3 linked regions of the Homo sapiens genome follow. The protein of the gene in region 2 interacts with the protein of the main gene of each other region in a pairwise test. Each region holds a gene or a part of one and is shown on either strand. Other genes may lie near its edges. The genes, in order: RWDD2B, KIAA1958 and THAP12.

What was found.
Region 1: the proteins of KIAA1958 (region 2) and RWDD2B interact in binary tests that used the Homo sapiens proteins (3 or more experiments, as listed by UniProt).
Region 3: the proteins of KIAA1958 (region 2) and THAP12 interact in binary tests that used the Homo sapiens proteins (3 or more experiments, as listed by UniProt).

Annotation. Positions count from the first base shown.
Region 1 is NC_000021.9:29,009,039-29,016,392, reverse strand, and holds part of RWDD2B (RWD domain-containing protein 2B), read left to right. Parts: intron 1-6,700; exon of another isoform or gene 6,701-6,798; intron 6,799-7,354.
Region 2 is NC_000009.12:112,573,725-112,581,078, reverse strand, and holds part of KIAA1958 (uncharacterized protein KIAA1958), read right to left. Parts: intron 7,023-7,354; 5' UTR 6,999-7,022; coding exon 5,828-6,998; intron 1-5,827.
Region 3 is NC_000011.10:76,363,861-76,371,214, reverse strand, and holds part of THAP12 (52 kDa repressor of the inhibitor of the protein kinase), read left to right. Parts: intron 1-5,242; coding exon 5,243-5,363; intron 5,364-6,782; exon of another isoform or gene 6,783-6,877; intron 6,878-7,354. UniProt on the Homo sapiens protein: Upstream regulator of interferon-induced serine/threonine protein kinase R (PKR). May block the PKR-inhibitory function of DNAJC3, resulting in restoration of kinase activity and suppression of cell growth.

The sequences.
Region 1 (7,354 bases), on a different chromosome or scaffold from region 2:
CTTGGGAGGCTGAGGCAGGAGAATCGCTTGAACCTGGGAGGTGGAGATTGCAGTGAGCCGAGATTGCACCATTTCACTCCAGCCTGGGCAACAAGAGCGAAACTCCGTCTCAAAAAAATAAATAAATAAAAAATCGGAAAAAAAACAAAAGAAAACATTGCGATTAAAGGAGGGAGGAATATTTGCAGTTCCAACAGTTATTAGAAGAGGAAAACTTCAAATTAAACATGAATAGACATATTAATAAATATATGTTAATATATGTATAAATATTATCAAGGCTACCCACCATCTTTTATGATACTTTAAATGCTTATATTTAAACTACTTAAATTCAGGTAACTACATGGCAAAATAAGGAATCCTGCTCTGTTCTGTGGAGAGGAGGGCTAATGTCATTTGGCCTGGAAAAACATGTTCTGGAGTCAGACAGAATACTGAACACCCCTCTTGGAAATTCACAGTTTAAGACTCTGAGAAGTCACAAATAAGAATTGTGCCCATATAGTCTCTCGCCTAATTAGGATTGCTTTTGTCTAGGATAAATACCTAAACCATATGGGGCTGGGCATGGTGGCTCACGCCTGTAATCCCAGCACTTTGGAAGGCCAGGGTAGGTAGATCACCTGAGGTCAGGAGTTTGAGACCAGCCTGGCCAACATGATAAAACCCTTTCTCTACTAAAAATACAAAAAATTAGCTGGGCGTGGTGGCGAACACCTGTAATCCCAGCTATTCGGGAGGCTGAGGCAAGAGAATCACTTGAACCCAGGAGGCGGAGGTTGTGGTGAGCCAAGATTGTGCCATTGCACTCCAGCCTGGGCAACAAGAGCAAAACTCCATCTCAAAAAAAAAAAAAAAAAAGACTAGGTGTGGCGGCTCACACCTGTAATCACAGCACTTTGGGAGGCCAACGCGGGTGGATCACAAGGTCAGGATTTCGAGACCAGCCTGCCCAACATGGTGAAACCCCATCTCTACTAAAAATACAAAAATTAGCTGGGCGTAGTGGTGTGCGCCTGTAATCCCAGCTACGCAGGAGGCTGAGGCAGGAGAATTGCTTGAACCTGGGAGGTGGAGGTTGCAATAAGCCAAGATTGCACCATTGTACTCCAGCCTGGGTGACAAAGTGAGACTCCCATCTCAAAAAAAAAAAAAAAAAAAAAAACGCATCATAATCAAACTTCTGAAAACCAAAGACAATGAAAAATTCTTAAAATTAGTGACAAAAATGAACCTTATCTGTAAAGGAAAACAATTCAAATGAGAGTGATTTCTCATCAGTCACCAGAGAGGCTAGGTGAAGAGGCACAGCATTTTTCAATTGTTGAAAGTAAAAACCTGTTAAGCCAGAATACTGCATCCAGTGAAAATATTCTGCAGAAATGAAGGGGAAATCAAGACATTCTAAGATGAAGGAAATCTAGGAGATTTGTCACCAGCAGACCTATCCTAAAAGAATGGTTAAAATAGGTTCTCTAAACAGAAAAGAAATAATAAAAGAATTATTATTAAAGAAATATAATTTAGACCTATTTTATTTTACTTTATTTATTTTTATTTTTTTATTTTTAGAAGGAGTCTCGCTCTGCCGCCCAGGCTGGAGTGCAGTGGCTGTATCTCGGCTCACTGAAAGCTCTGCCTCCTGGGTTCACGCCATTCTCCTGCCTCAGCCTCCTGAGTAGCTGGGACTACAGGTGCCCGCCACCACGCCCGGCTAATTTTTTGTATTTTTAGTAGAGATGGGGTTTCACCATGTTAGCCAGGATGGTCTTGATCTCCTGACCTCATGATCTGCCTGCCTTGGCCTCCCAAAGTGCTGGGATTACAGGCGTGAGCCACTGCGCCAGGCCATTTAGACCTATTTTAGGACTGTTAAGACTGAGATGGTCTCTGCTGTGGTTTAATGTGTGCCCCAAAGTTCATGTGTTAGAAGCTTTATCCCAAAGCAATAGAGTTGAGTGGTGGGACCTTTCAGAGGTGATTAAGTGATATGCAGGGATATAACAAAAAATGTAACATTCCTGTCATCAGCATTTCAGAAGAAGAGAAAGAAGGCAGGGTTGAAAAAGTTCCCAAAGAACAGGGCCCTCACAAATGGATTAATGGTGTTACTGCAGGAGTGGGTTAGTTATTGTGGGAGTGGGTTCCTGATAAAAGCATGCATTTGGCCCCTTCATCTCTCTTGCACTTGCTCTCATTCTCTCTTGCCCTCTGCCTTCCGCCATGGGATGACTCAGTAAGAATGCCCTTGCAAAATGCAGGCACCATTCTCTTGGATTTCCCTGCTTCCAGAACAATAAGCCAAATAAATTTCTCTTCATCGTAAACTACCCAGTCTCAGGTAGTCTGTTATCGTAACAGAAAATGAACTAATATAACATCCAATAGAAATATACAGATATAGTTAAATTTACAAATATGGGGCTCGAGAATTTGGAACATCCTAAGAATTTGAGAATTGTGAACATTTAATATTCAGTAATACTTGGTACCATGAGACAATAGAGAAGATAAAGATGTCCTCAACCAAACCTTAAGGGATGCTAACATTTTAAAGATCTTGCTTGGCAGTAGTATGGTATGGCATATAAATTATACCTCATTAAAGCTATTAAAAAAACTACTGAAGGGAAAATTCTACGTTATAAACATATCGTCTTTTTCTGTATTAATCTTTAATTTCTTTTTTTTTTTTTTTTTTGAGACGGAGTCTCACTCTGTCGCCCAGGCTGGAGTGCAGTGGCGCGATCTCGGCTCACTGCAAGCTCCGCCTCCCGAGTTCACGCCATTCTCCTGCCTCAGCCTCCCGAGTAGCTGGGACTACAGGCGCCGGCCACCACGCCCGGCTAATTTTTTGTGTTTTTAGTAGAGGTGGGGTTTCACTGTGTTAGCCAGGATGGTCTGGATCTCCTGACCTCATGATCCGCCCGCCTCTGCCTCCCAAAGTGTTGGGATTACAGGCGTGAGCTACCGCGCCAGGCCTAATCTTTAATTTCAATGCAATTACCATTTTTTCTTGTTTTCAAAACTTAACAAAATTATTCTAATGTTTATATGTGAGAAAAGCCAGGAAATACCAAAAAAGAATTCTAGAAAAGAAGAGTGATGGCTATGAAGAGACAGAGTAGGAGCAATTTACTAACCCATCATAGTGATTTCAAGAGTTGAGTATTAGTTAGCTGGGTATGGTGGTAGCATGACTGTAGTCCCAGATACTTGGGAGGCTGAGACAGGAGGATTGCTTGAGCCTAGGAGTTCGAGGCTGCAACGAGCTATAATCGCACCACTGCACTCCAGCCTGGGTGACAGAGTGAGACTCTGTCTCAAAAAAAAAAAAAAAAAGAGTATTAGGACATGATATTATAGACAGATCAATATAACAAAATGGAGAATCCAGAAAAAGACTCAAATACATATAGGCACTTAACATATGTTGAAAGAAACATTTCAAATTTATTATAAGATGTACTGGTAAAAATGGCTAGTTAACTGGAAAAAAAAAATAAGCTGGAAACTTCCGTCACCTTTTAAAGTGAAGTATATCCCAGATGGATCAAATATTTAAATGCAGAAATTGAAAATGTATTCCAAATAGAAAATAGAAGACTTTTTTTTTTTTAATTGATCATTCTTGGGTGTTTCTCGCAGAGGGGGATTGGGCATGGTCACAGGACAATAGTGGAGGGAAGGTCAGCAGATAAACAAGTGAACAAAGGTCTCTGGTTTTCCTAGGCAGAGGACCCTGCGGCCTTCCGCAGTGTTTGTGTCCCTGGGTACTTGAGATTAGGGAGTGGTGATGACTCTTAAGGAGCATGCTGCCTTCAAGCATCTGTTTAACAAAGCACATCTTGCACCGCCCTTAATCCATTCAACCCTGAGTGGATACAGCACATGTTTCAGAGAGCACAGGGTTGGGGGTAAGGTCACAGATCTACAGGATCCCAAGGCAGAAGAATTTTTCTTAGTACAGAACAAAATGAAAAGTCTCCCATGTCTACCTCTTTCTACACAGACACAGCAACCATCCGATTTCTCAATCTTTTCCCCACCTTTCCCCCCTTTCTATTCCACAAAACCGCCATTGTCATCATGGCCCGTTCTCAGTGAGCTGTTGGGTACACCACCCAGACCGGGTGGTGGCCGGGCAGAGGGGCTCCTCACTTCCCAGTAGGGGCGGCCGGGCAGAGGCGCCCCTCACCTCCCGGGGGGGGGCTGACCACCCCCACCTCCCTCCCGGACGGGGCGGCTGGCCGGGCGGGGGGCTGACCCCCCAACCTCCCTCCCGGACGGGGCGGCTGGCCGGGCAGAGGGGCTCCTCACTTCCCAGTAGGGGCGGCCGGGCAGAGGCGCCCCTCACCTCCCGGACAGGGCGGCTGGCCGGGCGGGGGGCTGACCCCCCCACCTCCCTCCCGGACGGCGCGGCTGGCCGGGTCGGGGGCTGACCCCCCCACCTCCCTCCCGGATGGGGCGGCTGGCCAGGCGGGGGGCTGACCCCCCAACCTCCCTCCCGGACGGGGCGGCTGGCCGGGCAGAGGGGCTCCTCACTTCCCAGTAGGGGCGGCCGGGCAGAGGCGCCCCTCACCTCCCAGACGGGGCGGCTGGCCGGGCGGGGGGCTGACCCCCCCACCTCCCTCCCGGACGGGGCGGCTGGCCGGGCAGAGGGGCTCCTCACTTCCCAGTAGGGGCGGCCGGGCAGAGGCGCCCCTCACCTCCCGGACGGGGCGGCTGGCCGGGCGGGGGGCTGACCCCCCCACCTCCCTCCCGGACGGGGCGGCTGGCCGGGTGGGGGGCTGACCCCCCCCACCTCCCTCCCGGAAGGGGCGGCTGGCCGGGCGGGGGGCTGACCCCCCCCCACCTCCCTTCCGGACGAGGTGGCTGCCGGGTAGAGACGCTCCTCACTTCCCAGACGGGGTGGCTGCTGGGCGGAGGGGCTCCTCACTTCTCAGACCCAGCGGCTGCCGGGCGGAGGGGCTCCTCACTTCTCAGACGGGGTGGTTGCCAGGCAGAGGGTCTCCTCACTTCTCAGACCGGGTGGCCGGGCAGAGACGCTCCTCGCATCCCGGACGGGGCGGCAGGGCAGAGGTGCTCCCCACATCTCAGACGATGGGCGGCCGGGCAGAGACGCTCCTCACTTCCCACATGGGATGGCGGCTGGGAAGAGGCGCTCCTCACTTCCTAGATGGCAGGGCGGCTGGGCAGAGACGCTCCTCACTTTCCAGACTAGGCAGCCAGGCAGAGGGGCTCCTCACATCCCAGACGATGGGTGGCCGGGCAGAGACGCTCCTCACTTCCCAGACGGGGTGGCGGCCGGGCAGAGGCTGCAATCTCGGCACTTTGGGAGGCCAAGGCAGGCTGCTGGGAGGTGGAGGTTGTAGCGAGCCGAGATCACGCCACTGCACTCCAGCCTGGGCACCATTGAGCACTGAGTGAACCAGACTCCGTCTGCAATCCCCGCATCTCGGGAGGCCGAGGCTGGCGGATCACTCGCGGTTAGGAGCTGGAGACCAGCCCGGCCAACACAGCGAAACCCCGTCTCCACCAAAAAAATACGAAAACCAGTCAGGGGTGGCGGCGCGCGCCTGCAATCGCAGGCACTCGGCAGGCTGAGGCAGGAGAATCAGGCAGGGAGGTTGCAGTGAGCCGAGATGGCAGCAGTACCGTCCAGCTTCGGCTCGGAATCAGAGGGAGACCGTGGAAAGAGAGGGAGAGGGAGACCATGGGGAGACGGGAGAGGGAGAGGGAGAGGGTTTTTTTTGGTTTTTTTTTTTTATTTTTATTTTTTGAGACGGAGTTTCACTCTTTTTGCCCAGGCTGGAGTGCAATGGCACGATCTCAACTCACTGCAACCTCTGACTCCCAGGTTCCAGTGATTCTGTCTCAGCCTCCCAAGTAGCTGGGACTTCAGGCACGCACCAACACACCCGGGTAATTTTGTTGTATTTTTTAGTAGAGACAGGGTTTCGTTATGTTACCCAGGCTGATCTAAAACTCCTGGACTCAAGCTATCCACCCTCCTTGGCCTCCCCAAGTGGTGGGATTACAGGTGTGAGCCACCGTGCTAGGCCAAAAGGAACTATGTATTAAGAATTTTCTTTTAAAGAAAAGAAGCAGGGGACTGAGTACAATTGTAAATTTCTGTTCTGTATGGCAACTTTCTGGAAAGTAACTTGGCAATATCTATCAAAATTTAAAATGTACATGTTGATACAACAATCCACCTCTGTAAGTTTATTATTGAATACACAGTATTCAGTTTACCATACTATATATATAAAAAGACCTTGCATTATAGGATTGTTCATATTAGTAAAAATGTGGAAACAACCCAAGTGTCCATCAATAGGTAAAGAATTAAATAAGTTATGGCATATCTACATGATTCAGTATAACAGCCGACAGTTACAAAGAATGAGGTAGATCACTATATGTTGACAGTGAATAGATCTACAAAATATATTTGGTGGGGAGGGAGATAGGAAATAGGAGGAAAAAGTATATATTATCCCCTTTGGATTTAAATATGTATACTGTATATATCTCACATTGTACATATTTATACATTATACCAGCATTTTTCACATATATATATGTATAATGCTTAAGATGTTTTAATGTTAACAGGGGTGACTTAAGCTACAGGACAATTAACACTTATTTTCTCTTTATGTTCCTCTGCTTCTTAAAAACTAATAAATAGGCCGGGCGCAGTGGCTCACACCTGTAATCCCAGCACTTTGGGAGGCCGAGGCGGGCGGATCATGAGGTCAGGAGATCAAGACCATCCTGGCTAACACGGTGAAACCCCATCTCTACTAAAAATACAAAAAATTAACCGGGTGTGGTGTTGGGCGCCTGTAGTCCCAGCTATTTGGGAGGCTGAGGCAGGAGAATGGCGTGAACGCGCCGAGGTGGAGCTTGCAGTGAACCAAGATTGCGCCACTGCACTACAGCCTGGGTGACAGAGCGAGACTCCGTTTCAAAAAAAAAAAAAAAAAAACTAATAAATGCCATGCACAGTGGCTCATACCTGTAATGCTAGCACTTTGGGAGGCCAAGGCAGGAGGATTGCTTGAGCCCAGGAGGTCAAGACCAGTCTGGACAACATAGCAAGACCTTGTTTCTACAAATAAAAAATGAAGCCGGGCGTGGCAGTGCATACCTGTGGTCCTAGCTACTCAGAAGTCTGAGGTGGGAGGATTGCTTGGGCGTGGGAGGTTGAGGTTGCAGTGAGCGGGGATCATGCCACTGCACTCCAGCTGTGGTGACAGAGCTAGACCCTGTCTCAAAAAAACCTAATAAACATTAATATTTACTTAAAAAGAAGAAATTGACCATCCACGTAACCAAACTC
Region 2 (7,354 bases):
AGATCTGAGAAAAAAATAAAAATAAATAAACACATCAGACTCTAAGCTCCGGGTGGCCAGGCTCCACTCTCTCAGCCCAGAGCTGCCTGCCATATCAATCTTCAGATGTGTACCCGGTTTGTGATAAGGAAGAAAATGATGGCAAAAATAAAAAGCTGAATTTTTACTTTGTCTCTCTTATTTTTCAAAAATTATAACTCAGCTCTTCCTTCAGGAAACTACAGGAAAAGGTTAAGAAATGGCTAAGAAAATAAATTTTAGTCTTGTTTCTTTCTTTGTGTTTTTTTTTTTTGAGATGGAGTCTCGCTCTGGAGCCCAGGCTGGAGTGCAGTGGCACAATCTTGGCTCACTGTAACCTCTGCCTCTGGGGTTCAGGCAATTCTCCTGCCTCAGCCTGCCGAATAGCTGGGACTACAGGCGCCTGCCACCACGCTGGGCTAATTTTTGTATTTTCAGAAGAGATGGGGTTTCACCATGTTGGCCAGGCTGGTCTTGAACTCCTGACCTCAGGTGATCCACTCGCCTTGGCCTCCCAAAGTGTTGGGATTACAGGCATGAGCCACTGTGCCCAGTTAGTCTTGTTTCTTCTTGTAAGAAGAGGCATATATTTCTCATGGAATAAAGAAATATATAAAATATGTGTCTATGTATATATATATACATATATATGTATGTATACACAAGCACACATATTTATACATATTTCCACACTTAGAACACTTTTCCAATATACACTGCCTTTAAATAAAACACGTAACAACTCTTCTTATCTGCCCACATAAAAAAAACTAAATGCTCAAAAGAAAACAAAACAAACCTCCCATAAACAGTAGTAGGAATCTCTGGTTTACTGCCCCTCTCAAGAATCATACCTAGAATGTTCTTGGAAGAATACTTCCACCCCACGCTCACACTCAGCTATGTAGTTTGTGTAGGCTTGGTCTCAATACCATTTCCAGGGTGGGGGCCTGATCCCCCTATGCGTGATTTAGGGGTGACTGGGAATGCTGTGACACAGGTTCTGTCTACTGCTAGACAAGAAACCAGCAGCACAACCATCTTGGGTCCACGCAGGGGTCAAGTATAACAGGTGAATCTAATAGGGAGGAAGGCAAGGTGGCAAATGGCAAGAGGGAAACTTGATGCTGTCTGAGCCTGAGTGAAAGCTGGTTTGAAAATCTGTCCTTGGACTATAAGGCAGTCAATTCTCTCCTTTAACTTATTTCAACTCAGATTTTTTGCTTCTGACAAGAGAAACCATTATCTATTATGTCAACACAGATCAAATAACTGGCAGTAATACATACCTTAATCAATTTTTAAAAGCTCACTGAACTCAATTTTACATGAGTAATTTTTCAAAAAGCATATTAAATGACTTAGACTACATTTCTTTCTGAATGCATTTTTTGTATAAAATACAATCACCATAAATTTATACAAATAAATACTCAAACAGTAAAAATCAGAAGAAAAAATAAAGAGATCAATAAAAACAGAACTGAAAACAAGAAAGAGACCCAATAATAAACAAAAATGTGGTATCTGAATCAATTCAGCGGAGAATGAGAATTATTCAACAAATGAAGCTGAGACACCTGACTACCTGCAAAAATAGTAACATGAGGTTCTACCCCAAAAGGTATTCTAACTGTAAAGTCAAATGTCAAAAAAAGAAAGGGAGAGGAGAGGAGAGAGAAAGAAAACCATAAAAGAATAAGAGGGAAATACAGAGAAATATTTATGTGATCCCAATGTATGGAAAGGACTTCCTAAGCAAAATACCAAAGACAGAAAAGATTGATTGACTGATAGATGTTGAAAGAATTGCCTTCATAAAAATTAAGAAAATTCACACCTTAAAAAAGGTCATCAACAAAATTAAAAGCTAATGGTAAAGTGGGAAATGTATTTCCAATATACGTGAGAGACTATGAGCTACTTGGGAAATGTATTTCCAATATACATGAGAGATTATGAGTTACTATTTCTAATATATCCAGAACCCATATGAATCTATTAGAAAAAGATAAATAAATTTTTTTAAAAGAAAAAATATATATACATACAAATCTGATAGGCAAAAATGGATTGCTTATACCACAGAACTGGGAAAAAAGCTGATTAATAAAAGGGATCCTTACACAAAATCATAAAAGAAGCTATGTGTATGTAAGTATATTGAAGAAATATAATATACACATAAAACCCTAACTCATGATGCGATAGAGATTTAAATGTCATTATGACAAATGCCCCAAATTTACATAAAACCTCAAAAATTAATGGAATCCAAGCTACTAGTAGGTAGTCAATAATTCTTCTAATAATAGATGCCCTCTTTACTCATTGTTTGCTAAGATTTGGATTGAGCAGTATGGCAGGATTGACATGAAAATTAATGATTTTATCTATACCTTGATTAACATTTTATAATTTTATGAGTTCAGCTCTGAACAGAAGTAGGGATGATTTTCCACTATGGGAATCAAATTTAAATGGCAACAGTAAAACCAAACAAAATGGAACAATTTCTCTTTGTTTCTGGCTGACTCAATAGTCATTTGTCAAATTATTTATTTTAAAAATATTATCTAAAGATACGCAGTATTTCTGCAATGATCTGATAAAGACTCAGTACAGAGCATCCATTTTAAAAGAACCTGACTTAGCTTTCAGAACCTGTCTTCTTTGCTTAGTCCCAAGTACGCTTTACATATTAACTGTGTAAGGTCCATCCGTAACCAAGTCATTCACATACATCTGGGTGTGCTAGATTCTAAATTTTTTAAAATCTATGTTTAGAAAGATTATCTACTATAAATAAACATGCAAACACAAACACATAACTAAAACTTTAGAACACAGAATCTAGTTAGGTACTAAAGTAAAAAGTAAATTTTATGTTAACTTTATACAGTTCACTCAAAAGAAAAATATGAGTCTGATTTTTATTTGTCCCACTGCTGTTTCCAGTTCAAACAGTATATCTCTAAAGCTAATGACATCTTAGCAATATGATACCCTTCCCGAGAACAATGGATCAAAATATGAGGACCATCCTTGGAAAATCGTCATGACCAGTCTTCATAGTGTTTTTCTTAAAGGTTTACCTCCAAGCCAAACTAATCCTCCTCTGAGAATAAAGCCAAATCACAATTTATGACAGTATATATTCTGTGCTCTCTTTGGCCATGCCAGCTTTTCATAGCTAATATAAGAAGTGCAATTTCCATGAGGGAAGAAAAAAACCTAAGAGAATGTAATACACACAATAATAAATGGATTCGTTTTTTTTTTTTCAAATAGGCTGAATTTCTTTCCCAAAATAATGAGACAGTAATATATTCATATATGGTTTAGCAAAGCGCCTCAGTGCCTCATTTACTATCCACAAGGCAGATGCAGAAAAGTCTTGCATCTTGCTTTGCAGGGATTAGTGAAAAGGTATGCAACACAACTAATACTCTCACCAAACTGGGTACACTGGACCACTTTGCAAAATACATTTCTGAATTCTACCCTATTTAAATGAAAAAAAAAAAAGGGGGGCAGGAGAGTTCAAATAAATAAATAAACTAGAACTAGGTTCATAACCATTTAAGTGAAAAGGTGCTACTTATATCCTACATATATCAAGAGTCAGATTTCCTAGAACAAAGACTTTCACCAGCCTAATAAAGATAACATTTTGTCTCATGATGAGATTAGTCAAGGACCACATTGTTATTCAATGATCAAAGTATAATTCATTAAAATATTTTTTAAAAGAAAGAAAGAAAAAGACAATCCATGGGATGGGAGAAAATACTTGCCAATTATATACCTGATAAGGATCTCATATTCAGCACACATAAAGAACTCCAAAAACTCACCAATAAGAAGGCAATTTTAAAATGGCCAAAAGATTTGAGTAGATATTTCTCAAAAGAAAATATACAAATGGCTAACAAGCACATGAAAAAAATCTCAGTACCATTAGTCATTAGGGTAATGCAAATCAAAACCCCAATAAGATACTACTTCACACACCCAATAGGATATTTATTATTTTTTTAAACATGAAAAATAACAAGTGTTGGTGACAATGTGGAGCAGTAAGAACCTTTATAGATTACTAGTGAGGCTGTACAATGATGGAGCTGCTTGGGAAAACAGTTTGACAGCTCCTCAAAAAGTTAAATACAAAGTTACCACAGGACCCAGCAATTCCACTCCTAGGTAGTTACCCAAGCAAGATAAACATACACACCCACACAAAAACCTGTTCACAAATGTTCACAGCAGCAGTATTCATAATAGCCAAAATATGAACACAACCCCAATGTCCATCAACTGATGAAAGGAAAAATAAAATATGGTATAGTCATACAACAAAATATTATTTGGCAATAAAAAGGAAAGAAACGCTACAACATGGATTAACCTTGAAAACATAATGCTAAGTGTAAGAGGGTGGTCACAAAAGACCACATAATATATGATTCCATGTATATGAAACATATAGAATAGGAAAATCCATAGACAGAAAGCAGATTAGCAGTTGCCAGGAACTAAGAGGAGGGAAAAAGTGACTGTTAATGGGTATGGGATTTCTTTTTGGGGTGATGAAAATATTCTGAAATTAGATAATAGCGATAGTTGTACAACTCTATGAATACACCAAAACCCACTGAACTGTACACTTTAAAAGAGTGAATTTTATATGTGAACTGTATCTCAATAAAACTATTATTTAAAAAAAGATAAAAGTGAATAAACTGAAAAGCATAATCTTCAATCAGGATATAAATATTTTCAGTGAATATCTTCTTAATAACACCATGACTATGTCTTCAAAAAAATCATAAATGAAAGGTCTTCTTTGGGAATCTTAAAGTTGATACTAAAATTGGAAAAAAGAAGTTTGTAAAGCAACTTAATCCAAGGACGTTTCAGGATGAAGGCACAGGGGCCTCAGGTTTCTAGGAAGCTTTTCCCAAAATACACGACGTTTTTGAGAAGGGCTGAAATAAACTAAAACATGCCACAGATTTCTGCACATTTGTTCATCCTTGTCCACGTTTCTATTCTAGCCTACTAGAATTGAGTCATGAAGCCAAAGCATGAGATCCAACCCCTTTATATACTAATGGCCCAGATTAAATAAACATTGAATGTCAGAATTAAAGAACATTAGAACGTTAGAATTACAGGTGCAGGGGCCTCGTACAATTATTTCATTCTCCTCTCAATCCATTCCCATTGGCTCACAGATTCCAGAAATGCAAGTTTCCATATTCTTTTAAATTTTAAGAGAAAAGATCAAATACCTCTTTTAGAAATGTACATTGCTTTTTAAAATACTTATTAACTACCAGAGCAACTAAAATGAATAGCAACGTCAAGTTGGCTCAGTCAAATAAATAATACGAAAAGCATTAGGTCTATTGTCATGATATGCCTTACCCAACATTATTTTGGCTTCAAACAGCAACTAAACACCTTGCTACTGATGGAGAAGCATATTTTTAAAACTTTCAAAAATAACTTTACTATATAAAAATTCAGCTGACAGGTATCAACCTTAAATCTAACGCTGCAATATCAACAGAACAATCTTACAGCTGTCCTCTCAGCCCTAAGGTACGTCAACTAGATATGGCCATAATTCTTATGAATTTCCTGTATAGTATCACCTGGATGTAACACAGTCATTGTTTCTATCTTTCTATGACTAACAAAGGACTGAATTCTAGCAAACTGAGTGAATGGTTTTAGAAGTGCTGACGGCGCAGAATTCTGGCGTGCGTGGATGAGGGACTCACTGTCGCCTCATGTGCCATACCTGGTATGCACTGTGCTGTGGCCTCAGTGGTTATGGCTGGAGCGACTGGGGGCTGCTGCTGACTGGAGCTCACTTCTGGCTCTGTGTTAACTGAGGGAGAAAGGGCTACCTCACAGGAGGAGACCTGGCTGGGCAGATGGGACAGGAACTCTTCAGAGGCAACTTGCTCATCCTGTCCAGGCAGCTGCAGGGCAGACAAGGGGATACTGATCTGTTTGTTAGGATGGGATGTGCTCACAGGCATTTGCATGGCCACCTGTTGGTTGGTGCCATGTGTACCAGGGGGTCCTCTGTTTGGTGAAGCCAGAGATACCCTAGCAGTCTTCTGGACAATTGGTCTGGAGATCACAGAGGGGGATGCAGACATACCGTGTGGGTCTAGCTCCGTGCTGATGGCAGATGTGACATGGGGAATCAGTTTAGCAGACCCTACACAGGAGGGACCAGCGTGAGTCTGAGGCTTGGGTTTTGCCATCTGTGTCAAGGACAGGGCTGGTCCATCTACTCCTCCTGTCAGTTCTGCATTTGCCACAATGTAATAATCTTCGGGGATTTCTTGTTTGATTTTCTTGATGATGACATCATTGCTGCATTCGTCAACCATCTGCGTCTGGGAGCTTGAATGGAGGGAAGATGGGACTACCCCAGGTCTTTTGCGAGCAATGCTTTGAGGCCTTTGGGTTTGGGGTTCAAAGTCACTATCCTCATCTGTAACAGAAGACTCACAAACCATGTCAAACAGGGTGTTCTCATCTTCATATTCTTCAACAGTTTCATCCAGTTCAGAGGGCTCACTACAGTAGGAGAAGTCACAAGAGTCTCTGGTCCGGTTACAGTCTAGCTTTGCTTTCACTGGTCTCCCAGGGTACCTTTCAACAGGGCTAGTCTGTGTCTCAGAGGGCACCCCGATTATACTGGGACTATCAGAGTTAAAACTTCTGTTATCCTGGAAACAGACCCTCTCTTGGGACCCAGCTCTGCAAGTAGCTGTTAGTGGCCAGTGATAAGCATGGCCAGCACTACAGCCCCACATTGCTGTCAGGTTCCCATGGGAACCTTCAGAAAGCAAGTGTTTCAGGTTTGGAATGAGGCTGCAAATAGTCCCATGGCTATGGGCCCAGCTGACCAATTTGGACAGATTCTCAGATGAGGTATGAAGACAATCCTCCATGTTACAGGATCAGCAGTGTCACTCCTAAAGGGAAATAATCAAAAGAAGAAGCCATTATTACCCAAGATAATCCTATAGCTCAATTACTTCAGTTTGTTCCAAATATGATCATTTGGCATAAAAAAAAAACGCACTTCAAAACTGAATCTAGTTAAGGTCGCTGTAGATGAGCAGGGACTGGAAGAGAATACCAGGAAAAGTAAAAACAGCTGATGACTGATGGTTGTGGGATTTGGAGAAAAATTTTGTTACTTTTCTTTATTGTTATAATAATTCCTGCCTAAGGGGGGAAAGAAAGGAGAGAAAGAAAAAGAGAAACAAGCAATAAAGAAATGAGCTTTTCCATGGTACATTTT
Region 3 (7,354 bases), on a different chromosome or scaffold from region 2:
AGACATTCTCAAATTGGCTTTAAAAAATGCTCTGCAGCACGGAGAAGGGGTTAGAGAAGGGCAGATGACCAGTTTGGAAGAGATACTAGTAGACCAGGTAAAAAATTATGGTAGCTTGGACCAGGGTGTTATTGATGGAGAGAAGCAGATGGATTTGGGGAGTCATTCCACTGTGCTAAGGGAAAAGTCTACAAAATCTGGAGTACAGGGAACAGAACAATGACAGGGAGAGCTGGGAAAGGGGAGGCATTGGTAAAAATTTGAGACGAGTATGTAAGTGGGTATGTATGTATATAAATATATATACATATTCATAATACACATATGAATACACATGTGAAAACACTTATTGTGGTCATATATATATATATTTTTTTTTTTTTTCTTTTTTTTTGAGACGGAGTCTCGCTCTCTTGCCAGGCTGGAGTGCAGTGGTGCGATCTTGGCCTACTGCAACCTCCACCTCCCGGATTCAAGTGATTCTCCTACCTCAGCCTCCCGGTCATATATAATTTTTATAATTTTATTCATGTAAAAACGTATACATAGAAGAGCTACGTGCGGTGGCTCATGCCTGTAATCCTAGCACCTTGGGAGGCCGAGGCAGGACGATCACTTCACCCAGGCGTTTCAGACTAACCTGGGGAACATGGTGAAACCCCGTCTCTACAAAAAATACAAAAAGTTAGCCAGGCATGGTGGCGTGTGCCTGTAGTCCCAGCTACATGGGAGACTGAGGTGGGAGAATCGCTTGAACCCAGGAGATGGAGGCTGCAGTGAGCCGAGATTGCACCACTGCACTCCAGCCTGTGCAACAGAGTGAGATCCTCTCTCTCAAAAAAAAACCCCAAAAAACATATGCACAGAAGATCACAAATGATAACTGTACATCATGTTGGATTTTCAGAGTAACATATCCATGAAAATTTCACCGGGATTTTTAAAAAATAGAGTATCACTAGCGTCCCAAACTTCCTCTGCTTCATGGTTCTCCCAGCCATTATCCCATTCTCCCCAGTGGTAGCCACTGTGACTTCACATACCTTGGATTAGTTAGGTTTTGGGGGGAAGAGGGAGAATGAATGGAAGCTTTATTATTGTTTGAGATATAGAACATTAGCAGCACCTCAGTAGCCTCTTTTGTGCCCACTCCCAGTTGTTACCCTCCCCAAATGTATCTGCTATTCCATCACTGTGTTGAGGCGGAGCCAGACCACCCCATATTTAAAGATTCACTAGAAGGGCTTGCAGGACTCAGTATATGGTTGTACTCACAGTGAAGATTTATTGCATTGTAGTAAGGATACACATCTGGATCATGAGGGAAAAAGACAGGCACAGTCTGAAGGAATCCATGTATAGGCTTCCCTATGCTCCGTCTTTCCCATGAGGGGGTCACCCAGAGCCCGTTTTTCCCCAGTGGTGGAAATGTGGCAACACGTGCCGTGTTTCTGTGGAGAGAAGACCGTTAGAGACGTAGTGTCCGAGGTTTTTACTGGGTCCTGATCACATAGGCAGCCTCTGCCTGGCATATAATAAAATTCCAAATTCCCAGAAGGGATGGCAGGTGTTCAGCAGGTGTGCTTGTTTGCACAAGCAGTCTAGGCACATTGAGCTGCATTATCAGTTAGGAAAAATTTTATTTCTGTGTATGGAACTGTTTACCAACCAAGTTCCCGGATACCAGCCCAAGGTCCTTAACAAACAGGCCTTTCTAAGGACAGCAGCCTGAGGTCTGCTGTGTTAACTCTTTTTCTGAACAATCACTATGAATGAGTTTTGCCTGTTCTAGAATTTCATATCAAAGGAATCATGTAGTATGTACTCCTGGCTTCTTCTGCTTAACATTACGTTTGTGAGATTGTAGATAGTTTGTTCATTTCATAGCCAAGTAGTATTCCATTGAATGAATATACCACAATTTATCCATCCTGCTGTTGATGGGCAAAGTTACTTCACCTTCTCCCCAATATTTGGTATTACCTCTTTTACATTGTAGTCATTCTTGTGGGTATGTAGTAATTTGTTTTGGCTTTAATTAGCATTTCCCTGATGGCAAATGAGATCGAGCATTTTTTTTTCATCTATGTATTGCCATTTTTATAACCTTTTTATTATAAAGTGCCTGTTCAAGGCCCCTTGCCTATTTTTATGTTGGGTTATTTATTTGTAGGAGTTCTTCATATATATTTTGAATGTGAGTCCATTGTTAGATATATGTATTGCAAATATCTGACATTTTGTGGTCTGCCATTTCACTCTTAAATGGCTTCTTTTAATGAAGAAAAGTTATTAACTTTAAAGTAGCCTAATTTATATATCTTTTCCTCTAGCATTTGTGCTGTTGCCTTAAGAGATCTTTATTCCAAGGTCATGAAGATAATCTCCTGTGTTATCTTTTAGTGGCTTTATTGTTTTACCTTTCATATTTAGATCTCCAATCACTTGGAACTTATTTTTGTGTATGGTGTACAAGTAGGAGTTAAGATTTATTTTTTTCATGTAGATATTCAGCTGACTCGGCCCTATTTATTGGAAAAGAAAAATCCATATTTGCTGCTGTTCAGAGCTACCTTTAAGTATCTGCAGTGCTCTATTTTGTTTCACTGTTCTGTCCTTCTGCCAGTACTTGTCTTAATAAGCTTTACAGTAAGTCTTAATATCTGGTAGTGTAATTCTTTCAACCTCCTTTTTCCTCTCTCTCTCTCAAGATTATCTTGGTTATCCCTGGTTCTTTAATGTTGTGTATAAAAAGTTTTAGAATAATTTGTCATTTCTTTCTCTTGCTCTCTCTCACAAACTTACTGGGCTTGTGATTATATTGAATTAGTAAATGGGTTTGGGGAGAATTGACATCTTTGGAATTTAGTGTGCCAGTTCATAAACTTGTGTATTTATTTAAGTTTGCTTTAAAAAGATTATTAGAGGTCTTGCACTTCTTTCACTAGATTTATTCTTAAGTAGTTCATATAGAAAGTCAGGTGTATTTGATTAGGCTCTCTGCCTGATGCCCATTCTGTTCTTGATTGTCTGAATAAGAGTTGCTGTTGATATCAGAAAGCTGTTTCAACTTAGTTCGGAGGTAATATGTACAGTATTGCTCTGTGTGGAAGGTCTCCAGAGATTTAAGAATTTAAAAAACAAACAACTGTAGCAGTATGGCAAATTATTTTATAGTGAGATCGTTTTTATACTTAATATTTGGATTTTGAAACATGAAATGTTTATAATCATAATGTACAACTGTGTAAAAGTGTGATTAAATTGTGAACATCTTAGGCATCGTTACTGTGAGCAGTAATACTTGTTGGTCAAATGAAATGCTGTACAATTTAGGTGTAGTTTTTTAAAAATCATAGCATTTTACCTTGATTTGACATTTTTAGAGTAGAGAGAATTAAGTGTCAGGGGCATGTATGTTGGGGGGAGGTGGACAATAGTGTTAAAACATAAAAAAAAAATACTGTGATTTAATTATAAAGGAATATGTTGGGCCGGGCGCAGTGGCTCGCGCCTGTAATCCTAGCACTTTGGGAGGCCAAGGTGGGCAGATCACCTGCGATCTGGAGTTCGAGACCAAGCTAGCCAACGTGCTGAAACCCCATCTGTACTATAAATACAAAACTTAGCTGAGTGTCGTGGTGCACGCCTATAATCTCAGCTCCTTGGGTGGCTGAGGCAGGAGAATTGCTTGAACCTGGGAGGCAGAGGTTGCAGTGAGCTGAGATCACACCACTGCACTCCACCCTGGGCTAAAGAGCAAGACACCATCTCAAAAAAATAATTTGTGATACTGTTTATCCACGGCAGAACTTTTATTCTTAGAAATTTGAGGAATGGGCCGGGCGCGGTGGCTCACGCCTGTAATCCCAGCACTTTGGGAGGCCGAGGCGGGCAGATCACCTGAGGTCGGGAGTTCGAGACCAGCCTGACCAACATGGAGAAACCCAGTCTCTACTAAAAATACAAAATTAGCCAGGCGTGGTAACGCATGCCTGTAATCCTAGCTACTTGGGAGGCTGAGACAGGAGAATCGCTTGAACCCGGGAAGCAGAGGTTGCAGTGAGCCAAGATCATGGCATTGCACTCCAACCTGGGCAACAAGAGCAAAACTCTGTCTCAAAAAAAAAAAAGAAAAGAAAAGAAATTTGAGGAAAGATCTAGTTGTGACTTTAGCAAGTTACTTAATATTTCTGTGCCTTCATCTGCACAAGGGGGATATTAATAGTACCCATCTTTGGAAAGGACTTAGAACGTGTCTGGCTCATAATAAGTGCTTATTATTAGCTTTTCTGAAAATATTTAAGCACCGAGAGGGCATGGACTTTGTCTTGTTCTCTGTCTTCAACACTTTTTGTGTACTAGATTGTGTAGTCACAGTCCCTGCATTCATGGAGCTTGCAATCTAGTCAGCACGTATTACTGTAGATAATAATTTGTGTTCATAGGAAGATAAACGAATACAGCCTTTATGCTTCCCTTAGAAACTAGTTATTTAAAGAACATCTAGTTGCTGATTTTTTTTTTTTTTTCCGAGACGGAGTCTGGCTCTGTCACCCAGGCTGGAGTGCAGTGGCGCAATCTCGGCTCACTGCAAGCTCCGCCTCCCGGGTTCACGCCATTCTCCTGCCTCAGCCTCCCGAGTAGCTGGGACTACAGGCGCTCGCCGCTTCGCCCAGCTAATTTTTTGTATTTTTAGTAGAGACGGGGTTTCACCGGGTTAGCCAGGATGGTCTCGATCTCCTGACCTCCTGATCTGCCTGCCTTGGCCTCCCAAAGTGCTGGGATTACAGGCGTGACAACACGCCCGGCCTAATTGCTGATTTTCTACAGTGACAGTGTTGTTTTGTATGCTTGTTGAAGTTGAAATCCTGAAGGGAATGTTAAGCTGTGAGCCTTGTGGCTGTGCATGCAGCTTTCTGCTTGTTCTGCTGATGGTTGAATCTTCTCTGATGTTTTGGGAGTTGGAAGATGCAGGTTTCAGTTCTAGTTCTGCTGATGATTTTGTACTTCCCTCCAAACAAGTTACTTCTTAACCTTGTCTGTAATTGAAATGTTGGTACTAAATGACTTCTAAGGTTTTTTCCAACTGTTATTTTGTTATTAATCAAATTCTCCAAATTATGTTCTCAGGGAGGGGAGCAGGAATCCGTTGTTATTAATGTATGTTTGCCTTAAAACTGAAGGCTGAAATTTAAATGCTGAGCTCATTTTCATAATTGTATTTTGGTTTTATTTATAGATGCCAGAAGTGGGTGGAGAACTGTAGGAGAGCAGACTTAGAAGATAAAACACCTGATCAGCTAAATAAACATTATCGATTATGTGCCAAACATTTTGAGACCTCTATGATCTGTAGAACTGTGAGTAATAGAAGAGCTTGGTGTCTCTCTGTTTGACTTGATTTCTCTCTCTCACTGTGTCTGGTTGGAAATGTAAGTATTTACCAATGTTGGAAGGTATTCCTATATCCTGCCACTTTAAGATGAAGACAGATTTGGAGCTGAAAAGTATCTGTTTTGTTCTTAAAATCCTGATTTTGCCGGGGGCCTATAATCCCAGCACTTTGGGAGGCCGAGGCAGGAAGACCACTTGAGCTCAGGAGTTTGAGACCAGCCTGGGCAACATGGCCAGATGCCGTCGCTACAGAAAATACCAAAAAAACTAGCGAGGTGTGGTGACGTATGCCTGTAGTCCCAGCTACTTGGGAAGCTGAGATGGGAGGATACTTGAGCCCATGACGTCGGGGCTGCAGAGAGTTGTGTTCATGCCACTACACTCCACTCTGGGCGACAGAGTGAGCGCTTGTCTGGAAAAAAAACTCAAAATGATTAAAACAAAACAAAACAAAACAAAACTCTTCGGTTCCTGGTGCCCCATTTCTACTCACCCAAGGTAACTACTTTTTTTTTTTTTTTTTTTAAAGACAGTCTTGCTCTGTCACCCAGGCTGGAGTGCAGTGGCGCTATCTTAGCTCACTGCAACTTCTGCCACCTCCCCCACCTCCTGGGCTCAAGCGATTCTCTCTCCTCAGCCTCCCAAGTAGCTGAGATTACAGGCATTGTGCCACCACGCCCAGCTAATTTTTGTACTTTTAGTAGAGGTGGGATTTCTCCATGTTGGCCAGGCTAGTCTCAATCTCCTGACCTCAAGTGACCCGCCCACCTCGGCCTCCCAAAGTGCTGGGATTACATGTATGAGCCTCCACACCCGGCTGAGGTAACCACTTTTAAATATTATTTAGTCTTCAGGAAAATTTTAGATGATTATAAAAGTATATGTTTATTTAAGGTAAAGTTGGTGTTTTTATTTGGAGCTCTTTAGAGCTTTTTTATGAGTAAAATTTTCATCTCGGAATGGAGCTCTTGTTTTCATGTTTTTGTATGTACTATTAGAACCAACTTTTAATTTTTATGTGGTAGATATAATGGTAAACAAATTATCCAGGTAATGTGGAAAAACATTTTCATCAATAATATGTAATTTCATATCAGGACCTACTGTTAACTGTGTGAGCTTGGCCAAGTCACTTCCCCTCTTTGGGCCCCAGTTCCTAATAAGGAGATTAGGCCAGGTAATTCCTGAGTTCTAAGATTTTTAACCCTCTGTGATTCTCTTGCTGTGATTTATAAAAGGCACAAATAAGGCAAATTTGATTGAAATGAAGCAGACTTGTTTCAGTGTAACTAATGTAACACCTCAGATATTGGGATAGACATAAACTTGATTCAAAGGTACACTATATGTTGTTATGCAGCAATTTATTTTGATATTTTTTTCAGATACATTTTGCAGAGGCATCAGAAAACTAAAGAATGATTGGGTTATTTTATTTCTCAAAATTAATTGAAGCAGATACTTGTGAAGTCATTGGGAGGTGAGCCAATTCCGGTTCAACAGTTTAATCACAAATATTTGAGGAATATTTTTGCCTTGATTTGTTAAAAGGGTAATAATGATCAACCAAAATAAAAGGTTTCATATGTTTAAAAGGCAAACTACTTTTATGTTCTTGACATGAAGTAAAAATATCCCAAATTATTTTAAATACATTTGCCATATGCATTTTTGCATTTTTATTTTAGTAATAAATATGGTCTCTTAATTAGATAATTCTAACCAGATTGTGAGAAATTTAAAGGATAGTTCATTCTTACATTCTTTAGTTAGAGAATAGAACAGAAAGATGAGCCAGGTTTGCTTTTTTAATTTCTAAATGATTCTTCAATCTTGAATAAATGAACGCAAATGTGAGAAAATGTTCTTTCTATACGTCTAGGAGATGTTGTTATTAAAAACTGGATTTCTGGGCTGGATATGGTAGCTCACACCTGTAATCCCAGCACTTTGGGAG